Regions from separate parts of the Homo sapiens genome. Here regions 2, 3, 4 and 5 are each linked to region 1. Evidence: fine-mapped expression QTL. A gene starts in region 1. Each other region holds a variant in brackets. All regions are shown on one strand. Distances are between the middles of the regions.

Region 1 (5,106 bases):
GCTAACCACTGTTAATACCTAAAGACTATGATCAGCCTGGAGAGGGGCATGAAGTTGTACCAGGAGCTCAGCAGTGTTGGTGGGGGTGTCTGGCCTTGTGTCCCCTTCCCTCCCCTGTCATGCACAGGTGCCCTGTTCAAAGACTCCAGAGGGACCCCTGAGCCTGCTATGGGTGTCTAGGGATGCTGGAGGCCTCAGAGGCACCAGTGGGAAGAGACAAGAATGTGGAACCTGCAGCGGGCGCAGCTCAGTTTCCTGGGACTTCCGTGAGAAGTCAATGAGGGCATGCACATGAGAGTGACAGATCTGGACAGAACAGGTCCCTGCGTGGACTCAAAGCTTCCTCTAGAAAAGAACACTTGACCCCTGTCTCCCTCATCCCCAGCCCAGTGGCTCACTGCCTTCCTACACTCCACTGGGAGCAGAGAAAGACCTGCCTTTGCTGAAAAGGCTACTGGCCCTAAGAGACATCGGGACCTTCAACCTCCTCGTCACCCCTAAGGGCTTTCCTCTCCTGCAAGCAAAGAAAAAACACCATCAGGCTCCTTCAAACACAAATGGTCCAGGATAGGCACAGGCAGAGGCTCCACGCGGCTCGTTCCTGGCCTGTAGCAATGCACTGCTCCGTGCAGGACCTGAGAAGAAGACATAGAATGTTCCAGGGAGGACCCAGGTCAGAATACCGATGGCCGTGAAGAGAAGAGTTTACTCTCATATGCAGGGCAAGCTTAATCCAGAGAGAAAGTCATGAAAATTAGATCTGTTTTTGTGAACACTCGCTCTGTCCCAAGGAATCCCCTAGAAGTTTGTTTTTTTTTTTTTTTTTTTTTTTGAGACGGAGTCTCACTCTGTTGCCCAGGCTGGAGTGCAGTGGCGCGATCTCAGCTCACTGCAAGCTCCGCCTCCCAGGTTCACGCCATTCTCCTGCCTCAGCCTCCCGAGTAGCTGGGACTACAGGCACCTGCCACCACGCCCGGCTACTTTTTTTGTATTTTTAGTAGAGACGGGGTTTCACCGTGTTAGCCAGGATGGTCTCGATCTCCTGACCTCGTGATCTGCCCGCCTCGGCCTCCCAAAGTGCTGGGATTACAGGCTTAAGCCACTGTGCCTGGCCTATAAGTTTTTACATAAATTATCTCATTTTATCCTCACAACTCTCCAAGAAGGTGGTAGTGCCTGATTTTACAGATCAGGCTCAGAGAGGTTTGGAAATAGGGCAGCTCTGTTTCCAACCCAGGCCTGTCTGCATATGGAGCTTAGGCTGGGCCTCACCACCCTGCTTCTCCCAGGGATGTTTGCCCTCAGCCTTGACCAAATGGGAGCCCAGGGCAGCCAAGAGAGGCCAGGGGCCACTGTGCCTGGGACACAGAGGCCAGGCCACACATGGCAGACTGCTGACCCCAGCCAGTTGGCAGTGATGGGGTCAGGCCCTGGAGCCTGGAACCAGCACCTCCCTTGGCCCTGCTGTCCCGGGTTATCAGGAGCCTGAAGCCCTCATCTCCACCCACAGGACCAGCCCATGGGCTCATGAGAATACCTCACCATGGGACAGCTGGACTTGTACCTTGTCTGGAGCTAGCCCCAGCCTCCCACTCCCTATTCCGCAGTGAATGCTAATGGGGGCAAGGAGTGGAGTGGACAAGGAGCCATGGGGAGACACAGACAGGGAAAAATCAGGATTGTTCTATTTGCGGGAGAAGCCCCCAGCTCCCCGTGCCATGGCAGTAGAAATTTGGCAGGGGCGTCCCCGTCCATGGGGCCTACTTCACCGTGTACCCGGACTTGGGACCATCACAGACTTCGGAACCATCAGGAACCTGGGAGCAACTGAAAGCTGAACTACAGTGGGCTTTCAGACACACAGCAGGCTGGCGGAGCACAAATAGGACTGGTTCCCTCCAGGCCACCAGCAGGGCGGTGGAGGTCTTCACTGACTCCCTGCCTACCTCTCAGGACAATGTCCTTTTGGCTCCACAGTCCCTGAAGCCAGAGCTGGTGGGGGCAGGGAGGCAGCCACCAGCCTCTATATGTAGTGGAGGAGGGGGTGTCCAGGGAGGGCTGCATGATCCTGAGAGCCCCCACCTCACCCGGCTGGACTATCCTCCCACTTCAGGGTTTCTCTGGGCTTCCATCTTGCCCCTGCTGAGCCCTGCTTCCTCCTCTACCAGCAGCACAACCCCCAGGCTGGGCTCAGAGACCTCATGTGGTGGGATCACTCAGTACCCCGAGGCGGAGGGAAGGAGGGAGGGCTGCAGGGTTCCCCTTGGCCTGCAAACAGGAACACAGGGTGTTTCTCAGTGGCTGCGAGAATGCTGATGAAAACCCCAGGATGTTGTGTCACCGTGGTGGCCAGCTGATAGTGCCAATCATCCCACTTTGCCCTGAGCACTCCTGCAGGGGTAGAAGACTCCAGAACCTTCTCTCAGGCCCATGGCCCAAGCAGCCCATGGAACTTCATAACCTGAGCTCTCCATCTCCCTCTCTCTCCTCCTCTGTTCTCCCTCCCTCCTTCTCTCCCTCACCCTCCTCTGCTCCCTCTGCCTTTACCACTGTGGGGGGGTCCTCTGGAGGGCCCTGCCACCCCACCTCTTCCTCGCTGGTGTCTGCCTTCCTGGCACCAATCCTGGCCCTGGAGTTTGTCCTGGGCCTGGTGGGGAACAGTTTGGCCCTCTTCATCTTCTGCATCCACACGCGGCCCTGGACCTCCAACACGGTGTTCCTGGTCAGCCTGGTGGCCGCTGACTTCCTCCTGATCAGCAACCTGCCCCTCCGCGTGGACTACTACCTCCTCCATGAGACCTGGCGCTTTGGGGCTGCTGCCTGCAAAGTCAACCTCTTCATGCTGTCCACCAACCGCACGGCCAGCGTTGTCTTCCTCACAGCCATCGCACTCAACCGCTACCTGAAGGTGGTGCAGCCCCACCACGTGCTGAGCCGTGCTTCCGTGGGGGCAGCTGCCCGGGTGGCCGGGGGACTCTGGGTGGGCATCCTGCTCCTCAACGGGCACCTGCTCCTGAGCACCTTCTCCGGCCCCTCCTGCCTCAGCTACAGGGTGGGCACGAAGCCCTCGGCCTCGCTCCGCTGGCACCAGGCACTGTACCTGCTGGAGTTCTTCCTGCCACTGGCGCTCATCCTCTTTGCTATTGTGAGCATTGGGCTCACCATCCGGAACCGTGGTCTGGGCGGGCAGGCAGGCCCGCAGAGGGCCATGCGTGTGCTGGCCATGGTGGTGGCCGTCTACACCATCTGCTTCTTGCCCAGCATCATCTTTGGCATGGCTTCCATGGTGGCTTTCTGGCTGTCCGCCTGCCGATCCCTGGACCTCTGCACACAGCTCTTCCATGGCTCCCTGGCCTTCACCTACCTCAACAGTGTCCTGGACCCCGTGCTCTACTGCTTCTCTAGCCCCAACTTCCTCCACCAGAGCCGGGCCTTGCTGGGCCTCACGCGGGGCCGGCAGGGCCCAGTGAGCGACGAGAGCTCCTACCAACCCTCCAGGCAGTGGCGCTACCGGGAGGCCTCTAGGAAGGCGGAGGCCATAGGGAAGCTGAAAGTGCAGGGCGAGGTCTCTCTGGAAAAGGAAGGCTCCTCCCAGGGCTGAGGGCCAGCTGCAGGGCTGCAGCGCTGTGGGGGTAAGGGCTGCCGCGCTCTGGCCTGGAGGGACAAGGCCAGCACACGGTGCCTCAACCAACTGGACAAGGGATGGCGGCAGACCAGGGGCCAGGCCAAAGCACTGGCAGGACTCAGGTGGGTGGCAGGGAGAGAAACCCACCTAGGCCTCTCAGTGTGTCCAGGATGGCATTCCCAGAATGCAGGGGAGAGCAGGATGCCGGGTGGAGGAGACAGGCAAGGTGCCGTTGGCACACCAGCTCAGACAGGGGCCTGCGCAGCTGCAGGGGACAGACGCCAATCACTGTCACAGCAGAGTCACCTTAGAAATTGGACAGCTGCATGTTCTGTGCTCTCCAGTTTGTCCCTTCCAATATTAATAAACTTCCCTTTTAAATATATTTATTTGCAAGACCAAATATCTGTCTTTAATTCTAACCTGGGACTGTCAGTAGGCGTCAAAGTGAGCGCCCCAAGGTGAAGGGAAACTTGGGAGAGAGTGGGGAAGCCATCCCACAGCCCCATCCCAGGGGGCACTGTCCTTCCCAGAACTTCTGGGAAGCCCCGGCATGTCCTGAAAGGCAGAACTGCTTTCTTGGGTGAGGCCTCAGGCAGGCCACCAGGGCTCCAGGCCCTCGGGTACAGAGTTTGATGCTGGGGACCTAACATCCCTCCCCAGTTCCCTCAATCCACTTAGCCCAGCCCTCTCATATCATGGACAGGACGCACCCCAGCTACTAAAGTCGTCAGGAATAGAAGTGAAAGCCCAGAAGTGTCACACACAGACCAGGAGGGTGGCATCAAGGGTCCATGTGGATGCTGGGGAGGGAGCGAGAGAAAAAGTATCAGGCAGAGGGAGGTGGGCCCGGGAAGGATGAGCGGGTGAGTACCAGACCCCGCCTCCACCGTGTATCTCCAGCCCACTTCCCTGTTCTGAAAATCTACCTGCTGCACTCAGAAACCTACCAAGGTACTGGGGTGCCACCTGGGCCCCCCCCAGGGTTGCTCTTCTGTCTCTCGGCTCCCCATGGGCCCCTCTTGCCCCCTCAACTCCTACTGCTCCCTTTTACTCCCTGGAGCCACGCCTAGGGGGTCCCTGCTTCTCCACGCCCTCTGTCACCACAGGGAAGGGAGTCCAACCCTGGGCGGGGCCACCTCAGCCTGAGTCAGGTCTTTTAGGAAAGGCCTGCACACTCCTGGAGGATGGGGACTGAGCAGCTCCTTCGGGTGGATCCCCACCTGGGGCGCCAACACTTACCGCCAGCTCAACACCAGGCACCTTTCCTCTGGTACCATCTCTGCCCCTGAATGCGCCCACCTGGGCTCAGGGCAGCTCCACGGGCCATTTCCTCAATCTCCTCTTCCCTGGACCCTTCTCCTACCAACTCCTCCCTCAAGTCCTCGCACCTCTCCCAGCACCTGCCCTCACTCCTTCATGACCTGATGGAAGGGAAATGGACAGATACTCCCATGGTTTGCAGGCATGTCTGCAGTCCT
Region 2 (5,106 bases), 71 kb after region 1:
ATATTGGTAGCAATATGAAAAAAATTACCTGTTGCACATATCTGTCAGTAGTTTTCCACATGTAATAATATTCAATGATGCTAGTCAATGATTTCCAAGGAAGCTGAAAAAAAAAAAAATCAACCTATCATCTATGTTAACATATAATAAAATGAGATGAAAATAAGCTACTATAGAAAGTACTTTCCTTAAAAACCACCACTTTCTTTTTTTTTTTTTTTTTTTTTTTTTTTGAGATAGACTGTCACTTTGTTGCCCAGGCTGAAGTGCAGTGGCGCGATGTCAGCTCACAGCAACCTCCGCTTCCTGGGTTCAGGCAATTCTTCTGCCTAGCCTCCCAAGCAGCTGGGATTAGAAGCACATGCCACCATGCCCAGCTAATTTTTTGTATTTTTAGTAGAGACAAGGTTTCACCATGTTGGTTAGGCTGGTCTCGAACTCCTAACCTCAGGTGATCTGCCCGCCTCGGCCTCCCAAAGTGCTGAGATTACAGGTGCGAGCCGTCACACCTGGCCCTTAAAAACCACTTCTTTATTAAAATAATGAAGCAAATATCCACATGGAAGATTCATTCTAGAATATTTGAGAAATTTAAAATTAATCCTTAGCAAACGGTACCCCAAACAAGTCATATTCAGTATGGAATGTGAATACAACACATTCCATTTCTCATTCCGTTTATACATTTTACTAAAAATTATAAACATCATAACTGATAACATTTCTTTCTCTTTTTATTTAAGAGACAGGGTCACCCAGGCTGCAGTGCAGTGGCATGATCACAGCTCACTGCAGTCTCAACCTCCCAGGCTCTAGTGATCCTCCTGCCTCAGCCTCCTCAGCTGGGACTATAGGTGTGACACCATGCCCGGCTAATTCTTTTTTATTTTTTGTAGAGTTGGGGTCTCCCTATGTTGCCCAGGCTGGTCTTGAACAACTAGGTTCAAGGAATCCTTCCACCTCAGCCTCCCAAAGTCCTAGGATCACAGATGAGCCACCGTGACCAGCCCTGATAACATTTCATGACTTACTTGGGAAAGTTCTCAAGCTACAGGTGGGGCTGCAGCACTATTTTAGAAACGGCATTTAAACAGCTCTAGCCTGAGTTATTTCAGCTTCCAAAGATGGCAGCTATGACTGTGTGTCATCTGGTCTCTGCAAATCCTTGAAAGAGGCATTGAGGAAGACAGGAGAGACAGTCTCGTCTTGAATCGCTGATGCCACCCCTCTCCCATCCCCTGGCAGAGGCCTTGCAGTGCCAGAGTCTGTGCATATGGAGGAAGAACATCACAGTGACCAGGGGACTTTACATTGAACTTAGTGCTGCCCTGTGACAGCAGAGAATAAATCCATGCTGGGGTCAGCCAGTACCTGTGTAGGGAGGGAGAATCTGTACCAGACCTAGCCAGAGGGTAATCACCTATCCTATCGGTTGGAACTTGAGTTTCTCAACAAGCCTCATGACCATGGGCTGAAGTGCTCTGAGGACCTACGTAAACTTAGAAGACAGCCTAGGTACACAAGGACTTCAACTCCTAAACAACTCCTAGTGCTGGGCTGGACTCAGAGCCAGAGGACTTCGGGTGGCATGTGACCTAGGGAGACACCCAGGGTGGCTAAAGGAGTGATTGCACCACCCCTCTCCCAAACCTAGGCAGTACAGCTCAGGGGCAAAAATGTCTCCTTCCTTCTGCTTAAGGGATGGAAAGTGAAGAGTAAAGAGGACTTTGTCTTGCATCTTGGATACCTGCTCAGCCACAGTAGGACAGGGCACCAGGCAGAGTCGTGAGGCCCCCATTCCAGGCCCTAGCTCCTATACACATTTCTAGACACCATCTGGACAAAACAGAACCTGCTGCCTTAAAGGAAGGACCCAGTCCCTGCAAGATTCATCAGCTGCTGACTAAAGAGCCCATGGGCCCCGAGTAACCAGCAGCAATGCCTGGGTAGTAGTACACCATGGGCCTTGGGCTCTGAGATGTGCTGACTACAGTGTGACCCAGCACATTCCCAAGCACATTCCCAGCTATAGGTGGCTATGGTGAAAGGCTTCTTCTGTTTAAAAAGATGGAAAAGTAAAGGGATGTTGTTGTTTTGCACCTTAGTTACTGCTCAGCCACAGTGGGGTGGAGGAATAAGCAGGCTTTTGGGGTCCCCAGGTTCAGGCCTCAGTTCCTGAACAGAATTTCTGGACCTGCCTTGGGCCAGAGGGGAGCCCAGTGCCCTGAAGGGTGATCCCAGGCCGGACAGCATTCCCCACCAGCTGACTAAAATGAAGAGCCCATGGGCTTTAAGTGTACATTGGAGGTGGCCTGGCAGAACTACCCCCACCCCCAATAGTGGCTGGGTGTTGGTGTCCACAGGGAGGCCCCTCTGCCTGTGGAAAGGGGAAGGAAAAGCAGGAAGGATTTTATATTGTGGTTTGAGTCTCAGCTTAGTCACAGCAGAATAGAACATCAGGCAAATTTCTAAGGTTTTTGACTCCAATCCCTGGTTCTCAGACAGCATCTCTGGACTCACCAGGGCCTGGAGGAACTCACTACCCTGAAGGGAAGGACACAAACCTGTCTCACTTTGCCACCTGCTGATTGTGGAGCCCTAGGGCCTTGAGTGAGCATAGGTGGTAGCAAGTGAGCAGTTACGACAGGCATGACCCAGCACAGCCCCAGTGGTGGTAGCCACAAGAGTGCTTGTGTCACCACACCCCAGTTCCAGGTAGCTCAAGGGACGGGGTGTGGGGAGAGAAGGAAGGAGGGGGAGGGGAAGAGGGAGAGGGAGAG[GGAGAGA/A]CACTGTTTCTTTGAGAGAAAGGGAAAAGAACAAGAGTCTGTCTGGTAATCCAGAGAATTCCAGATCTAATCTGAGACTACCAAGGGAGTACTTTGAGTCTGCAAAAACCACAGTGATATTGGGCTTGAGGCCCAAGTCCTTTAGAAAGCCTTTTCAAGAAGGACGGACACAAACAAGCCCAGACTGTGAAGACTACAGTAAATACCTAACTCTTCAATGCTCAGACACTAACGAACATCTACAAGCATCATCCAGGAAAATATGACCTCACCAAACAAAGTAAGTAAGTCAGGAGGGACCAATGCTGGACAAACAGAGACATGTGACCTTTCAGACAGAGAATTCAAAATAGCTGGCTGGGCACAGTGGCTCATGCCTGTAATCCCAGCGCTTTGGGAGGCTGTGGCAGGAGGATCACGTAAGGCCAGGAGTTCGAGACTAGCCTGGCCAACGTGGTGAAACCCTGTATCTACTAAAAATACTAAAAAATTAGCCAGGCATAGTGATGCATGTCTGTAATTGCAGCTACTTGGGAGGCTGAGGCACGAGAATTGCTTGAACCCGGGAGGTGGAGGTTACAGTGAGCCGAGATCACGCCATTGCACTCCAGCCTGGGTGACGGAACAAGACTCTGTCTCAAAAGAAAAAAAAAAAAAAAAAGAATTCAAGATAGCTGTTTTGAGGAAACTCAAAGAAATTCAAGATGACAGACAGAAGGAATTCAGAATTCTGTCAGATAAATTTAACAGAGACTGAAATAAAAAGAATCAAGCAGAAATTCTAGAGTTGAAAATGCAATTAACATGCTGAAAAAATGCATCAGAGTCACTTAATAGTGGAACTAATTAAGCAGAAGGAAGAATTATTGAGCCTGAAGACAGGCTATTTGAAAAACACCCAGTCAGAGGAGAGAAAAAAGCAAAGAATAAAACCAATGAAGCCTGCTTATAGGATCTAGAAAATAGCCTTGAAAGAGCAAATCTAAGAGTTATTGGCCTTAAAGAAGAGGTAGAGAAAGAGGGGCAGGAAGATTATTCAAAGGGATAATATTAGGGAATTTCCCAAACCTGGAGAAAAATATTAACATCGATATTCAATAAGGTTATAATCAAACTCCCAAAGGTCAAAGATAAAGAAAGAACCTCAAAAGCAACGAGAGCAAAAACAAATAACTTATAATGGAGTTCCAATACGTTTGGCAGCAGACTTCTCAATGGAAACCTTACAGGCCAGGAGAGAGTGGCACGACATATTTAAAGTGCTGAAGGAAAAGACCTTTACCCAAGAATAGTATATCCAGTGAAAATGTCCTTCAAACGTGATGGAGAAATAAAGACTTGCTGACAAACAAAAGCTGAAGGATTTCATCAACACTAGACCTGTCCAATAAGAAGTGCTAAAGGGAGTTCTTTAATCAGAAAAAAATAGATGTTGGTGAGCAAGAGGAAATCATCTGAAGGTACAAAACCTGCTGGTAATAGTAAGTACACAGAAGAACACATTGAGTATTATAACACTGTAATTGTGGTATGTAAACTACACTTGTCTTAAGCACAAAGCCTAAATGATGAACTAATAAAAAAAAATAACTACAACTTTCCAAAACATAGTACAATAAGACACAGAATCAACAAAAAGTTAAAAAGGGGAATGAAGTTAAAATGCAGTTTTCTAATTATTAAGTTTTAGGGGGGGATGTGTGTGTGTGTGTGTACGATGTTCTAAGAGGTGATTACTACATATTGCATGCCTGTATCAAAGTATTTCATAGGCCGCGGTGTGGTGGCTCACGCCTGTAATCCTAGCACTTTGGGAGGCTGAGGCAGGCAGATCACAAGGTCAGGAGATTGAGCCCATCCTGGCCAACATGGTGAAACCCCGTCTCTATTAAAAATACAAAAATTAGCTGGGGCTGGTGGCATGCGCCTGTAATCTCAACACTTTGGGAGGCCGAGGCGGGCGGATTGCTTGAGGCCAGGAGTTCAAGACCAGCCTGGCCAACATAGTGAAACCCCATTTCTACTGAAAATAAGAAAATTAGCTGGGCATGGTGGTGTGTACCTGTAGTCCCAGCTACTTGGGAGGCTGAGGCAGGAGAATCACTTGAACCTGGGAGGTGGAGGTTGCAGTAAGCAGAGATCGCGCCACTGCACTCTAGCTTGGGCAACAGAGTGAGACTTTGTCTCAATAAATAAATAAATAAATAAATAAATAAATAAATAAAATAAAAATACAAAAATTAGCTGGGGTTGGTGGCGTGTGCCTGTAGTCCCAGCTACTCGGGAGGCTGAGGCAGAAGTATCACTTGAACCTGGCAGG
Region 3 (5,106 bases), 170 kb after region 1:
AGACCCCATCTCAAAAAAAAAAAAAACAGGTGGGTGAGGTGGCTCACACCTGTAATCCCAGCACTTTGGGAGGCTGAGGCGGGCAGATCACAAGGTCAGGAGTTTGAGACCAGCCTGGCCAACATGGTGAAACCCCATCTCTACTAAAAATACAAAAATTAGCTGGGCGTGGTAGTGCACGCCTGTAATCCCAGTAACTCAGGAGGCTGAGGCAGGAGAATTGCTTGAACCCAGGAGGTGGGGGTTGCAGTGAGCCGAGATCATGCCACTGCACTCCAGCCTGGCCAACACAGCAAGACTCCATCTCAAAAACAGAAAAAAAAAAAAAAAAAAAAGATAACTTGTCGGCCAGGTGCAGTGGCTCACTCCTGTAATCCCAACACCTTGGGAGGATTAGGCAGTAGGATCACATGAAACCAGTACTTTGAGACCAGCCTGGGCAACACGGTGAGACCCCATTTCTACAAAAATAATAATAATAATAATTTTTTAAAAAGATGGCCAGGTGTAGTGGCTCATGCCTCTAATCCCAATTCTTTGGTAGGCCGAGGTGGGCGGATTGCCTGAGCTCAGGATTTCGAAACCCGCCTGGACAACAAGGTGAAACCCCGTCTCTACTAAAATACAAAAAAAAAATTATTCACCGGGCAATGCAGTTTGCTCCTGTTGTCCCAGCTACTCAGGAGGCTGAGGGAGGAGAATTGCTTGAACCCGGGAGGCAGAGGTTGCAGTGAGCCAAGATCGCACCACTGCACTCCAGCCTGGGCGACAGAGCGAGACTCTGTCTCCAAAAAAAAAAGATAACTTGTGGAAAATTTTAGATTAGCTACTTCAAGTATAAAAATGATTTTCATTCTGTAAGTCCACAGACAGCAAAAAAAAAATTAAGGATTTTCAATCAACTAGTCACATGAAAATATACAACATGAGCCTGTATTCTTCCAGACCACAAATTAAGCCACACAATGACAGAAGTAAAGCTAACACAAGGCTTTCTAAAAAGCTTAAGAATATCTAATTGCTGGAATGCCTCATTTAATGATCAATAAGCAATGTGACATCAATTTTAAAGTATTAATACAGTACTTGCTTTGTTCACAAAAAATATAAACCATTAACATTCAGAAGACCAGATCAATAAGAAAATGTATATCATAAAACATAATTAACTTGTCAAATAATAAACCTTTATAATATTTACAGTTGATAATAATCTGGTTAATGAGACACAAACTTGCCATAACTGCCAATTACAAAATGTCACTTACAAAAATAAAAACTCCATAAAATAGCAAGAGAAAAATGTCCTTTTAAATGAAAGTTGATTACTTTAATGCTGTGATAAAAAATAGATTTTATGCCAACTCCAATCAAGGGGTAACAGCTGGCTAGAAAGGACCAAGTGGGCCCAAGGGCAGAGTAAGGACTCAGTATCTTGGTTGGGCCCTGGCTGCAAAAGGAGAGTAGCAGGCTGACTGAGGTCTATGTGCCTACACACTTCATAGACTAAGAAACAAAAAGCCATGGGCTATGTTCTCAAAATGTAAAATGTTATAAGAAAATACAACACACATCTTAAAAATCAACTATGTTTAGCTTTATTCCTAATAAACTTTGTGACTGAAGTACAAAATTAGAAATAAGAAAAAGTTTTTCAAATGCCAGGATGACCTTTTATTGTTCTTTTATTTTCCCTTCTCTCTTTAGTATTTCTCTCGGAAGTATTAAGATTTCAAAAACTGGGCAGAATGAATCACAGACAAATGCTTTCAGAAACTTAGATGGGGACATATATAATGTAAGATGGACTTAACTTACATGTAGAATAAAATGGACTTACATGTAAAAGCATTTAGAGTGTCTGGTATTATGTGTTAGCTCCTACTATTATTGTTAAATCATTATTGTAACTTATTACTAAGTCATAAGTTACTAAGTAAAAAGTTACAATAATAATTTTTAAAATTTTTTCCAGTCCTATGTGATCTGAAAAAATATATATATACCCAAATACCGTTTACTTAAACATGGGAAGGTAGAGGACAAGGAAAGAAGAAAAGCTAAGTAAAATGTATTTCCTTGTTCTAATAGGAGAAGAAGTCACGGAAAAATGTAAGGTTAAACACGTCAGTTTACAATTAGGAATATCTGCTTTACTTCCTTTATTGGAGTAACTAAAGGTTTCTTTTATTATTTTCCCCCTACAAATTAATTTAGCAAAAGTTAAACTCAAAATAGGCAAAGAATATAAACAGTTCACAGAAAAGGACACACATGTGGCCTTTTAAAAATATAAAAACATGCCGGGCACAGTGGCTCACGTCTGTAATCCCAGCACTTTGGGAGGCCGAGGCAGGCAGATCACGAGGTCAGGAGATTGAGACCATCCTGGCTAACACGGTGAAACCCCATCTCTACTAAAAACACAAAAAAATTAGCC[G/A]GGCATGGTGGCAGGCACCTGTAGTCCCAGCTACTCGGGAGGCTGAGGCAGGAGAATGGCGTGAACCTGGGAAGTGGAGCTTGCAGTGAGCTGAGATCGCGTCACTGGACTCCAGCCTGGGTGACAGAGCGGGACTCTGTCTCAAAAAAAAAAAAAAAAAAAAATGAAGCTCCTGTTTAGCCTTACTACCTTGGTTTTGAATAAGAATAGATAACTATGGCCCAGTGTGGTGGCTCACACCTGTAATCCCAGCACTTTGGGAGGCCGAGGCAGGCAGATCATGAGGTCAGGAGATCAAGACCATCCTGGTTAACACGGTGAAACCCCATCTCTACTAAAAAATAAATAAATGAATAAATAAATAAATAAATAAATAATTAGCCAGGCGTAGTGGCAGGCTCTTGTAGTCCCAGCTACTTGGGAGGCTGAGGCGGGAGAATGGCGTGAACCCAGGAGGTGTAGCTTACAGTGAGCTGAGATCGCGCCACTGGACTCCAGCCTGGGCAACAGAGTGAGACTCTGTCTCAAAAAAAAAAAAAAAATATATATATATATATATATATATGTATATTTATATATGTATATATGTATATTTATATATGTGTGTATATATATATTTATATATATATATAAAAAGATGTTCCACTTCAGTCATAAGAAATTTAAGATACAATCCCACCAAGGCACCATTTTTAATCTGTAAGATTAGTAAAGATTAAAAAATTTAATCCTAGGCCTGGTGCAGTGGCTCCCACCTGTAATCCCGGCACTTTGGGAGTCCGAGTTGGGTGGATCACCTGAGGTCAGGAGTTTGAGACCAGCCTGGCCAACATGGTGAAACCCTGTCTCTACTAAAAACACAAAAAATTAGCCGGGCATGGTGGTGCACACCTGTAATTCCAGCTACTCAGAAGGCTGAGGCATAAGAATTGCTTGAGCCCGGGAGGCAGAGGTTGCTATGAGCTCAGATCATGCCACTGCACTCCAGCCTAGGGACTGTCTTTTAAAAAAAAAAAAAAAAAAAAAGGGGCCTGGCGCATGGCTCCCTCCTAGCACTTTGGGAGGCCAAGGCAGGTGGATCATCTGAAGTCAGGAGTTCAAGACCAGCCTGGCCAACATAGTGAAATCCCACCTCTACTAAAAATACAAAAATTAGCCAGGCATGGTGGTGTGCGCCTGTAATCCCAGCTACTTGTGAGGCTGAGGCAGAAGAATCGCTTGAACCTGACAGGGGGAAGTTGCAGTGAGCTGAGATCACACCACTGCACTCTAGCCTGGGTGACAAAAGAAGACGTCTCAAAAAAAAAAAAAAAAAAAAACTTAATCCTATACTGGTAAAAATGGAAGGGAATGGGCACTCATTCATTGCTGGTAGGTGTAAATTGGAAGAATATCTGAAGCAATTAATTTGGTAATATCTGTCAAAATCACAATGCATATAACCATTTATTTTTTATAGAGATGGGGTCTTGCTATGTTGCCCAGGCTGCTGAAATGCAGTGGCTATTCACAGGTTCCATTGTAGTGTACAGAGCAAAACTCCGTCTCAGTAAATAAATAAAGACTCCATATCAATAAATAAATAAAGATAGATGCCATAGTCCTCCGAGTACTAAATGACATATATAGTCACACACCACATAACATTTAAGTCAACAGCAAACCACACATATGAACAACGGTCCCTTAAGGTTATAATGAAGCTGAAAAACTCCAACTGCCCAGTGACACTATAGCGGTAATATCATGGCACAAAGCATTACTCACATGTCTGTGATGATACTGGTATAAACAAACCTACTGTACTGCCCATCAAATAAATGTATAGCACATAGAATTATGTACAGTACTAACACTTGACATAGATAATGACTATGTTACTGATTTATGTATTTATTATACTATACTTTTTTTTGTTTTGACACAGAGTCTCGCTCTGTCACCCAGGCTGGAGTGCAGTAGCACGATGTTGGTCAGGCTGGTCTCAATGTCCTAACCTCAAGTGATCCGCCCACCTCGGCCTCCCAAAGGGCTGAGATTACAGGTGTGAGCCACTGCACCTGGCCAATATACTATATGTTTTATTGTTGTTTTAATTCTATTTAATTTTTTTTTTTTGAGACAGAGCCTTGCTCTGTTGCCAAGGCTGGAGTGCAGTGACATGATCTCGGCTCACTGCAACCACCACCTCCTGGGTTCAAGCGATTCTCCTGCCTCAGTCTCCCAAGTAGCTGCGATTACAGGCCCATGCCACCACACCCAGCTAACTTTTGTTATTTTTTAGTAGAGACAGTGTTTCACCATATTGGTCAGGCTGGTCTCGAACTCCTGACCTCAACTGATCCCCCCACCTCAGCCTCCCCAAGTGGTGGGATTACAGGCGTGAGCCACCGCACCTGGCCTATTGTTGTCTTAGAGTGTATTCTTTCTACTCATTAAGGAAAAAAGGTTAACTGTAAAACAGCCCCAGACAGGTCCTTCGGAAGGTATTCCAAAAGAAGGAATTGTTATCAAAGATGATAGCTCCGTGTGTGTTACTGTTCCTGAAGACCTTCCAGTGGGACAAGATGTGGACTGAGAAGACAGTGATATTGATGATCCTGACCCTGTGTAGGCCTAAGCTAATATATATGTTTATGTTTTCATTGTTAATAAAAAAAGTTTAA
Region 4 (5,106 bases), 86 kb after region 1:
GTGCTGCAAAGTGATCTAATTCTTGCCCAAGTGAGAACTAGTTCTGTTTTTCTCCCCACCTCTCACCCCCACCCAGACTTTCTAACACATAAACTTAAAGTCTTGCACCTTTTACGCAAAGTATCTCCTGCTACTTATTAAAAATTTCACAAATGGGGATAGCTTCACTTCTACGCAACAATAGAACTCTTAAAAATTTAGCTTTTGGCTTAAGTCGTGCATCTCCAAGCCCGCCACCAGTCAAGGTCTCAGTGCCAGCTATGCCACTGCAGCTGTCACTATGGCCCATTAGAACACTGCTAACTCGAAGATCAAGCAATTCTGGAGGTGCTTAGGGCTCTGGGGTGCTGAACGAAGGTGCTGGTAGCCTTAGAAAAGAACCAGAGAAACCTAATACTGCTTTGGTTTTTTTAAAGCATCACTTAGGAGTTGCTATCCCAGAAAATCCAGAAATAGAAGTGCTTCCCCTAGAATTGACAGAAATGAAAGATAAATATGAACGACCTCAGGTGAAGTGTGCCAGATAGGATTCTTCTCAGTGGAAAAGACACTAAAAAATGGTTTTGTATAACTTGAATAGTTTGTATATTATATAATCTTTTCTAGATAGATGCTACAGAATTCTTTTAATCTGTTACATTCACCTACCACACTTTATTATAAACACACTTAGAATCATCTATAAATACTCAATGTAAATTGTTTTGAGTCTTAAAGAAAAGAATCCAAAGTGGGGAAAAAAAAAAACAACACACAGCCATCTAATTCATTACCTTAAAAGATATTCTGTTTGTCTGATGAGGAACTATGGTGCTGGTTGTATTTTTGCCAATGAAGTTTAGCATGGAGGTAATCCTTGGTGTAGCTTAAAAAACGAGTACAGCCATTCTTTAAAATGAAGAAGGCACTGTTGTTTATATTTCCTGTAGGCAGCTGGAGAGATCTGTGTGACACAAGATGCTTCTGCATGGGTTCCCATGAATCTTCTGTTCTTGTTTATATAATGTGGAACAAATAACTCTTCTTTGCCACCACTGTGCCTTAGGTAACTGTGTGTGCCAGTCAGAAGTCTGACACCACGTTTTCCTTCTAGGCTATCATGCCCTATCTGATCATCTTTCCTTGCTTCACTCTGTGCTTTAGTGAAGCCTAGTTGCACATTGGCCTTTCTGTGCGGTTTTCAATTTGCTTAATGATAGCGGTTACCCCAATTGTAACTTATATAACTTTAAACAGAATCACACTATTCCCCGCCTTAGTTGAGCACAGAACAAAGGCAATATAAAATCTGGGGTTCACGCACAAGTTGGGATGAGAAGGGGAGTGAGCCATAATATCATGGAAAATTATACTTTCTAAGTATAATCGCAGTGATGTTTCTCTCAAAGTATTTTTCTAGCCTAGAATTCATTTTACCTTCATTATTCCTGTGAAGTAGGTAGGGCAAGTATGAGGGGAAGTTGGGTGCTGAATTTTTAGGTCAAAGACTGATAATAATACAAGGTATTTGCTCATTGTAGAACCTGGGGCACCAGATCAGTTAACTGCTCTGAGACTCACTTTCCTTGTTTGTTAAATGAGAAGAATATCCATGCTGCCTACCTCACAGGCTTGTGAGGGTCAAATGAGAATGTATGTGAAAGATCATTTCTTATTTGTATTTTTTTAAAATAGCTTTTAAGTGATCCCTCACTATCTGGTAGGAGACTGTAGGAGAGCTCAAATGTCAACTAACATCTATTAAAGTGAAAACATTATTAGCAAAAGTATGCATTAATATGTATGTATATGTATGTATACACACACACACAGTGATGCATTAACTAAGATAATGATAAGGGTATAGATTATGAATTTGTTCACCGAGTAACGGCAGTATTTAGAACATGTAAACATGTTTAGGTACAGTAAATAACTGCTTTAACAAGGGTTGACATCTCACTTAAAATCAATCATTGGGGCCAGGTGCGGTGGTTCACACCTGTAATCCCAGCACTTTGGGAGGCCAATGCAGGCGGATCACTTGAGGTCAGGAGTTTGAGACCAGCCTGGCCAATATGGTGAAACTCTGTCTCTACAAAAATTAGCTGGGTGTGGTGGCAGTCACCTGTAATCCCAGCTACTCAAGAGGCTGAGGCAGGAGAATCACTTGAACCCAGGAGGTGGAAGTAGCAGTGAGCCGAGATCACGCCACTGCACTCCAGCCTGGGCGGCAGAGTGAGGATCTGTCAAAAAAAATAAATAAATAAAAATAAAAATAAATCATTGGCTTTCACAAAACAGAAGTAGGGATTTCATGAACAATTTCCGAGTTATAATCATAACAAAGGCCACTGGCCATGTGTAGTCTTCTGTTGTATGTGTCACAACCATGGAACAATGACTTCCAACTTTGAAGTGAATTTCCTCTCACTCTTCTGCAGCAGAGGTTGAAAAAAAAAAACAAAACACAAGAATTGATCTTGGTTCTTCAGCTTTTGCTCTGCAAATTTCAGAATCAGCTAAATTCTGCAGCTAAGCTAACTAGACAGACTGTGTAGTTTAGCTGTAGTATGTACTTTTACACACTTCTACATCAACTCCATTGTACATACAATGTAGTATGTACCCCATTATTCATGATTTTACTTTCCAAGGTTTCAGTTACCCGTAGCCAACTGTGGTCTGAAAATAGATGAATATAGTACAGTAAGATATTTGTGTGTGTGAGAGAGACAGGGAGGGAGCGCACTGTATTAGTCTGTTTTCACACTGCTGATCAAGACAAACCTGAGACTGGGAAATTTACAAAAGAAAGAAGTTTATTGGACTTACAGTTCCACATGGCTGGGGAGGCCTCATAATCATGGTGGAAGGCAAGGAGGAGCAAGTCACGTCTTACATAGATGGCAGCAGGCAAAAAGCAAGAGGTTGTGCAGGGAACTCCCATTTTTAAAACCATCAGGACGAGGTACGGTGGCTCATACCCGTAATCTCAGTACTTTGGGAGGCTGAGGCAGGCGGACTGCCTGAGCTCAGGAGTTTGAGACCACCCCTGGACAACACGGCGAAAAC[C/T]CATCTCTACTAAAATACAAAAAATCAGCCAGGCATGGTGGCACATGCCTGTAATCCCAGCTACTCAGTAGGCTGAGGCAGGAGAATCACTTGAACCCAGGAGGCGGAAGTTGCAGTGAGCCAAGATTGCGCCACTGCACTCCAGCCTGGGTGACAGAGCGAGACTCCATCTCAAAAAATAAAAAATAAAAAAAAAATAAATCAGATCTCATGAGACTTATTCACTATCACGAGAACAGCACAGGAAAGACCTGCCCCCATGATTCAATTATCTCCCCCGGTGGTCCCTCCCACAACACGTGGGAATTATTGAGTTACAGGATGAGATTTGGGTGGGGACACAGAGCCAAACCATATGAAGCACAGTCACATATCTTTTATAATGGTATATTCTTATAATTGTTCTATGATTATTCTTGTTGATCTCTTACTGTGCCTAATTTATAAATTAAACCTTATGTTAGGTATAGTGTAGAGAAAAAAAAGTCTGATTCAGTGCCATCCTCAGCTTCAGGCATCCACTGAGGGTGCTGAAATATATCTTCTCTTGGAAAAGAAAGACTACTGTAATTATTGTTTCTTAATAACTAACCTCATGAAAATGAAAAGAAAGATCAATAGCATTTAGGGACCTTTTCAGTTAATAATCCCATAAACAATTATTTTTTAAACCTTCTAAATTTACAATAAATGAAAAAACTAAAAGATTAAAAGATACTCAAAAATGCTAAAATTCCTCAAAATAAAAATAATTTATCTTTTTCTTTGGAGACAGGGTCTCACTCTGTTGCCCAGGTTGGAGTGCAGTGGCATGATCTCAGCTCACTGCAACATCTGCCTCCTGGGCTCAGATGATCCTCCCACCTCAGCCTCCCAAGTAACTGGGACTACAGGTGCATGCCACAATGCCCAGCTAATTTTTGTATTTTCAGTAGAGACAGGGTTTTGCCATGTTGCCCGGGCTGGTCTCCAACTCCTGGGCTCAAGCGATCTGCCTGTCTTGGCCTCCCAAAGTGCTGGGATTACAAGCATGAGCCACTGCATCTAGCCAAAAGAAATTTTTATAATTAACAGGGGCTCTGAAACCAGTCACAGAATTAAGTGCATTTTTCTCAGCTGATGCTACACCAACCACTCAAATCATGAATGGATTTTCAGTTTTGTGTTCATGTTAAATGAGTGAAACTGCTTTTCTTATGGATACTTTTTTAAATGATGATGGGCTGTTACCTAAAGGGCTTCAAAGAACTGAAGTAGTATCTTAGCCTTCATCAAGTGATTATGACAAAAAATGATTATATTCATTGTTTCAAAGGTTCTACTCTTTAGTGTTTAGTTTGTGTTCCTGAACACTGAAGGAACCATTTGCTTTCAGAGGAGGAGCTCCTGTACTGTCTCAAATCAAATGAGAAAGAATACATTGGAATTACTGTTCACCAGGAGATATGAAACCTCCAAAGCGCACATTTATACCAAAGACCAAAGGAGAGGAGAGTAAAGCTCAGAATGTGTAGAAAGTAAACACTCATCAGGTGTGTACACTGTGGAGTTACTAGGAAATAATTCCTTTGAAACTGACCAACTTCATAAAGGAAACCAGAGAATCATATTATGTGCCAGAAGTCCATATAAACCCCATCTTTCTGATACACACAGAAGTTTCTTTTGAATGGACTTTACGTAGTCTAATCTTACCCTTAAGAGCTTTACATGAATACAGTTTCTATAACAGAAGAGACAAAATCCAGTAGAGAAAATGTAGGGTAAATAAAGAAAATAAGCTAGGAAAAGACACAGTAACATAACACAGGACCAACGACTTGCGGTTTATCAGTAAGATAACACAAATTTGAAATGCCAGAGAAGTTTGAAAAAATGAACAACTAATTGATTGTTAGAGAAGGCAGAATAGTGATTTCCTAACTGGAGAGGAGCAGAAGGGAAGCTGTTGAGATACTGGTAATGTTCTTTACCATCTAGTGGTGGTTACACGAATATATACACAGGTAAAAATGTTTAAGCTGTGTAACAAACTGTAGGGCACTCTATATA
Region 5 (5,106 bases), 49 kb after region 1:
ACAAGGTGGAATCAGTCTTAACGTAAGATTGAAATGACATGGAAGATAAATGACAGCTGCTAAAGGCAACAAACTTCGCCATCTCTGACCTAGATGGGCCATACTTGGCCATCCCTTCCCCACTGTGAAGGCTTAACCTATCTTGGCAAAACTCAATTGTTAGGCTAGGGATTTGCAAGAGTAATAATGGGCCATTTGGTTTTATCACTGGTTTTCTAACCCTGATCAAGCTATGTCATTCATTGGTGCTGAGATTTAAAAGGCTACCTGTGTGCAAACAGAGTATTTCATCCAACAGTCAGAACAGTAAGAAACAGTGAGGATGGGTATTAGCTAATCAGTTTTCATGATGCTCATTATACCCTATTGTAAGACATTTTCAGACAAAAATAAAGCATACAATACAAACATTCTGTGTTTTAATTAGCTGTCATTTGGAAGAGTAGATGTGCAAGACAAAGGGACAAAACAAAACGTGTATTGAAACACTTTAATACTGTCATAAATATTAACAGAATCACTTTAACCTGTATGATTCTACTATGTTTATGCCTTTTTCCCACCTTCAAATATTTGACAAAAATGTCCTACAGGTTTTCTGATTTACTGAAGAATTTTTCCTTTTGCAAACTGAGACATTTCTGGGCATACACACAGGGAATTTCCTTTGATACCCACAGGAATTATTTGCTCTACTAGAGTTAAAATGTGCAAGTCTGGAACTTCAAATAATTTTAAATAAAAGTTAGGTTTTTATGAGTTCTAGCCCTTTCACCAAAAAAAAAAAAAAAAAAAAAAAAACTCTTTTCTGAAAATTATTAAACCGAAGATGGCAAAAGAGCATTTTTTAAAAATTCTCATTGTGGTTAAAAAAAACACAATGAGATACTATTTCACACTAGTCAGAATTGCTATCATTAAGTCAAAAAATAACAGATGCTGGCAGAGAAAACAGGTTGAAGAGAAAAAGAAATGCTATACACGGTTGATGGGAATACAAATTAGTTCAACCATGTGGAAAACAGTGTGGTGATTCCTCAAAGAGCTAGAAACAGAACTATCACCCAACAATCCCACTACTGGATATATACCCAAAGGAATATAAATCATTCTATCATAAAGACACATGCATGTATATGTTCATTGCAACACTATTCACAATAGTAAAGACATGGAATCAACCTAAATATCCACCAATGATAGACTGAATAAAGAAAATGTGGTACATGTACACCATGAAACACTATGCAGCCAGAAGAAAAGAACGATATCATGTCCTTTGCAGGAACATGGATGGAGCTGGAGGCCACTATCCTTAGCAAACTAATACAGTAACAGAAAACCAAATACTGCATGTTCTCACTTATGAGTCGGAGCTAAATGATGAGAACTCATGGATGCACAGAGGGGAGCAACAGACACTGGGGCCTATTGGAGGGTGGAGGGTGAGAGGAGGGACAGTATCAGGAAGAATAACTAATGGGTACTAGGCTTAATAATTGGATGATGAAATAATCTGTACAACAAACCCCCTTGACACAAGTTTACCTATATAACAAACCTGCACATGTACCCCTGAACTTTTTTAAAAGTTAAAAAATAAGTTTAAAAACATTAAAATAGACAAAGCACATACTGCAGAGAGCCTAAAACAATCAGGAATCTGAAAATATAGCACCCAGATATTGGCTAATTATTATGCAACCACTGACAAGTATAAATGATCCAATTTCTTTTCTTCCTATTCAGGTGATTCCCAGGAGAAAAAATAAATTACTAAGCTATGAAGCTTTTCACCTATTGTTGAATAATAGTGAAGATACAGGCAGAAATATAATAAACATCTTGTGGAAGAGTAATCTAAATAAACACTAGGAAGCAACCCAAAGCCTGTAAGGATCAAACGCCTGCCAAACCATTGAGTTAACACTACATAATTTCTTGCTAATATTACTGATTCACCTGAAATTCAAGTTATATTTGGGATAAGGACAAGATAAATTTTTCTTTCTTCTCTATTAATAAAGCTGGAATGAGTCATCTTGGTTATTTCCTCAATGTCTTGACAAAGGCAATCACCATATTACTAGTAATAAGATTTGCCTTTTATTCCAGTCTAGATGACCCAAAGGAAAACTGCCAATATGGCAGCAATTGATAGACATTGATGGCTATCATCAACAAATCCATCAAAGAGGTCACCAACACAATACCCAAAGATACTTCATTTTAAACTATATTTGCTTCTAATTTCTCATTAAAAATAGGAGGATTAATTATATGATGTTCTAAGTGACAATTTGCATTACAGAGTACCTCTGAATGGGAGATCAAAGCTTTTTAGAAAGAAGCATATTTCACTAATCCTCATAATATTTTATAGAAAGTTCCAGCTACTCAGGAGGAGGAGGAGGGAGGATCCCTTGAGTTAGAGGCTATAGTGAGCCATGATCACGCTACTGCACTCCAGGCTGGGTGACAGAGCAAGACCCTGTCTCAAAAAAAAAAAAAAAAAAAAAAAAGTAGTTGGTGGCAAGAATTATGTCTCAACTGTGAAAAAATTAGAGTGAAAAGATTCTAGGACTGCCTTAGTCACTCTTTAACATAAGAAAAGTTGTTGCCATTCAGTAGGAAAAATACAGTTGGCCCTGAGGAAATAGCCATAGGTGGGATTGTCTGGCCCACACTTGAGTTGGTTAGAAGGAATGCTGGGCTGCACTCAATGCCAGGCCAACAATGCTGCCACTTGTCAGACAGTCCTTGCTCCCAAATTACTCACCTAACTCCACTTCAACAGGGAGATATGCATTTGAAGTCACAGATAATGAAAGCAATCTGAGAAATCCCCAAAGAACCCAGAAGGAATCAAAACCTGTCCAGAGAGAACATCT[A/G]TATCTCACTCAAGTCACTTGACTGGTCACAAGGAACATGTCTTTAGTTTCCTAGAGCAGGGGTCCCCAAGCCCCAGGCCTCAGACCAGTACTAGTGGTAGCAAGTTAGGAACTGGGCCGGACAGCAGGTGAGCATTACCGCCTGAGCTCCGCCTCCTGTCAGGTCAGTGGCAGCATTAGATTCTCATAGGAGCGCTAACCCTATTGTGAACCGCTATGCGAGGGATCTAGATTGCCTGCTCCTTATGAGCCTCTAACTAATGCCTGATGATCTGAGGTGGAACAGTTTCATCCCAAAACCATCACGGCCCACACCACCCAGTTCATGAAAAAATTGTCTTCCATGAAACCTGTCCCTGGTACCAAAAAGGTTGGGGACCACTGTCCTAGAGGATGATCTATATTTCCTTGGGGTTAACCTAGAAATACACTATTACTTTTGTTGAAACTCATGGTTATTTTTCTACAGTGTTTTGGAAATACTGGGGGCAGTGAGATGGAAACCCTGCAATATACACACAGAATTCACAAAAACATCCCACATGTGCATTCAAGAACCCTGTCAAGATAAAACTATCAGTAGAGTTTGCTTCTAGAACTGGAAAGGTATTTTTAAAGAAGCCACAAAACTCATGATTTTTTTTTTATAAATTCAACTATTAATATGTCTTTTTTTAAAAAAAAATCTGCTTGGCAAATACACCATAAAGTCAAAGAGAAAACGGGGGAACTATTTGTATCACATATCACAGATTAAGAGATAACTTTGTTAAAATATAAAAAGTTCCCACAAGTCAGTAAGACTGCCAATAGAAAACAGGCCACGGGCAAAAACAGTTGACAGAAAAGGAGATAAATGGTTTTCAAATATAGGCAAAGATTTCTATCTCATTCAAAATGAGAAATGCAAGCTAATATAACTTGTCATCTGTCAATTAGTCACGGGTTTCAAAGATGGGTAACACTGCCAGCAAAGTTCTAGAGAAATAGGAATTGTCTAGATGTTGTGAGTGGGACTGTGAATTGCAGTTTTTCTACGGGCAATAAAACTACACCAAAATTCAAAATGTATGCTCCTTGGCCCCAACTTTAACTTTTAGGGATCTATCTTGTAAGGAACATTCCCATTTTATACATCAGTATGAAATGATATCTGCATAAGGATATTTGTTGCAACATTATTTATGATAGAAAATGACTGAAAATAACTTAAAAGCTTTTAATAGGAAACTAGTTATGGTACAACAAAATAGATTATGCAGCTGACACAAAAAGGAGGCAGTTTTCAATACAGTGGCACGGTATGTTAAGTAAAAAGCAGCAAGGGACAGAGCAATATAGACAGTATGTTAATATCATATAGAAACAAACAATAAGCCTACTTAGACTCTTATAGATGCACAGAATATTTTTTGGATACTTAAGGCAACGATGATAATGGTTATCATTGAATGGGGTAAATCAGGAATGAGGAACGTGATGAGATTTGTAACCACTTTTGTACCTTTAGAAAAATTTTTCAGTATCCATTCAAAACCAAATTTTTATTAAACTCCCTCGGCTTATACCACAAGGCACATACTAAAAAAAAAATTTAAACTCTCTACCAAAAATACCAAAAGAAGCAAACCAACTATTCTCTCATGATTCAAGCTTAAAATTTCAGAAAAGCTTATACTCATTAACTTTAGCTGAGAAATCTCTAGAAAAATCTCATAAAACACATTTTTCATCAAGTGGGGTCTTGAGATACTTCCAAAGCCAAATTAGCTTCTTCAAACAGAAAAATAGCTTCAGGTTCCTCCCAAATAACCTCATACAGGGGAATACTGTGGCCCATTCAAGTCTGGTATGTTATCAGCCCAAACCACTTCACTCTCTCTGCAAGCCACCAAGGTGCCAGGCAAATCATCCGGATTTACTTTTCCAGGCACTTTAGCTTCATCTTTGGAATGTTGCTAGTAAACCTACTTCTATTTAACCTCAGTCTGTGAGGATCCTGAGTCTCAAGTGCTGATAATCCTGTGTGCATCAGGTGTTTGGATGATTCTGTAGATCTTTGGTGAAGTCTCTGAAATAACGTCTGATGACAATAACAGAGGAACGTCATTCTCCCATACATAGCTTTTTTACTAGGGGGAGGGACCTCAGGGGGGAAAAAAGAAAAGACGGCTAACTTTTTTTTTTTAATAAAATATGGAACACTTCACTAATT

Which allele goes with the higher level. Positions count from the first base shown, and alleles are read on the strand shown. Sizes are in standard deviations (SD) of each study's normalised expression. Not every link is listed here.
For the expression in prostate of the gene that starts at base 2,374 in region 1, allele G in region 3 goes with a lower level than allele A (small effect, 0.35 SD a copy in GTEx).
With allele G in place of A in region 5, the expression in whole blood of the gene that starts at base 2,374 in region 1 is higher (small effect, 0.31 SD a copy in GTEx).

Evidence for each region. PIP is the estimated chance that this variant, and not a neighbour inherited with it, causes the effect. A credible set is the group of variants that fine-mapping cannot tell apart.
Region 2: its variant is the best candidate, but not a certain one, in a credible set for the expression of OXER1 in whole blood (TOPMed, PIP 0.78).
Region 3: its variant is the best candidate, but not a certain one, in a credible set for the expression of OXER1 in prostate (GTEx, PIP 0.60).
Region 4: its variant is the best candidate, but not a certain one, in a credible set for the expression of OXER1 in whole blood (TOPMed, PIP 0.65).
Region 5: its variant is the best candidate, but not a certain one, in a credible set for the expression of OXER1 in whole blood (GTEx, PIP 0.56).

Annotation. Positions count from the first base shown.
Region 1 is chr2:42,761,403-42,766,508 of GRCh38, reverse strand. OXER1 (oxoeicosanoid receptor 1) reads left to right here and starts at 2,374. Exons shown (of 1, transcript NM_148962.5): 1 at 2,374-4,010. The coding sequence starts at 2,447. The coding sequence ends at 3,601.
Region 2 is chr2:42,690,762-42,695,867 of GRCh38, reverse strand. MTA3 (metastasis associated 1 family member 3) reads right to left here. Exons shown (of 17, transcript NM_001330442.2): 10 at 29-103. Among named protein-coding and RNA genes, the nearest start is that of OXER1, 71 kb to the left of the region's middle. The variant GGAGAGA/A (reference allele first, on the strand shown) is at 2,781.
Region 3 is chr2:42,592,605-42,597,710 of GRCh38, reverse strand. The region is part of intron 3 of MTA3 (metastasis associated 1 family member 3); the gene reads right to left. All of the region lies in intron 2 of LOC105374555 (a long non-coding RNA gene), which reads left to right. Among named protein-coding and RNA genes, the nearest start is that of MTA3, 27 kb to the right of the region's middle. The variant G/A (reference allele first, on the strand shown) is at 2,441.
Region 4 is chr2:42,675,482-42,680,587 of GRCh38, reverse strand. All of the region lies in intron 8 of MTA3 (metastasis associated 1 family member 3), which reads right to left. Among named protein-coding and RNA genes, the nearest start is that of OXER1, 86 kb to the left of the region's middle. The variant C/T (reference allele first, on the strand shown) is at 3,055.
Region 5 is chr2:42,712,823-42,717,928 of GRCh38, reverse strand. All of the region lies in intron 14 of MTA3 (metastasis associated 1 family member 3), which reads right to left. It also overlaps the pseudogene RNU6-137P. Among named protein-coding and RNA genes, the nearest start is that of OXER1, 49 kb to the left of the region's middle. The variant A/G (reference allele first, on the strand shown) is at 2,892.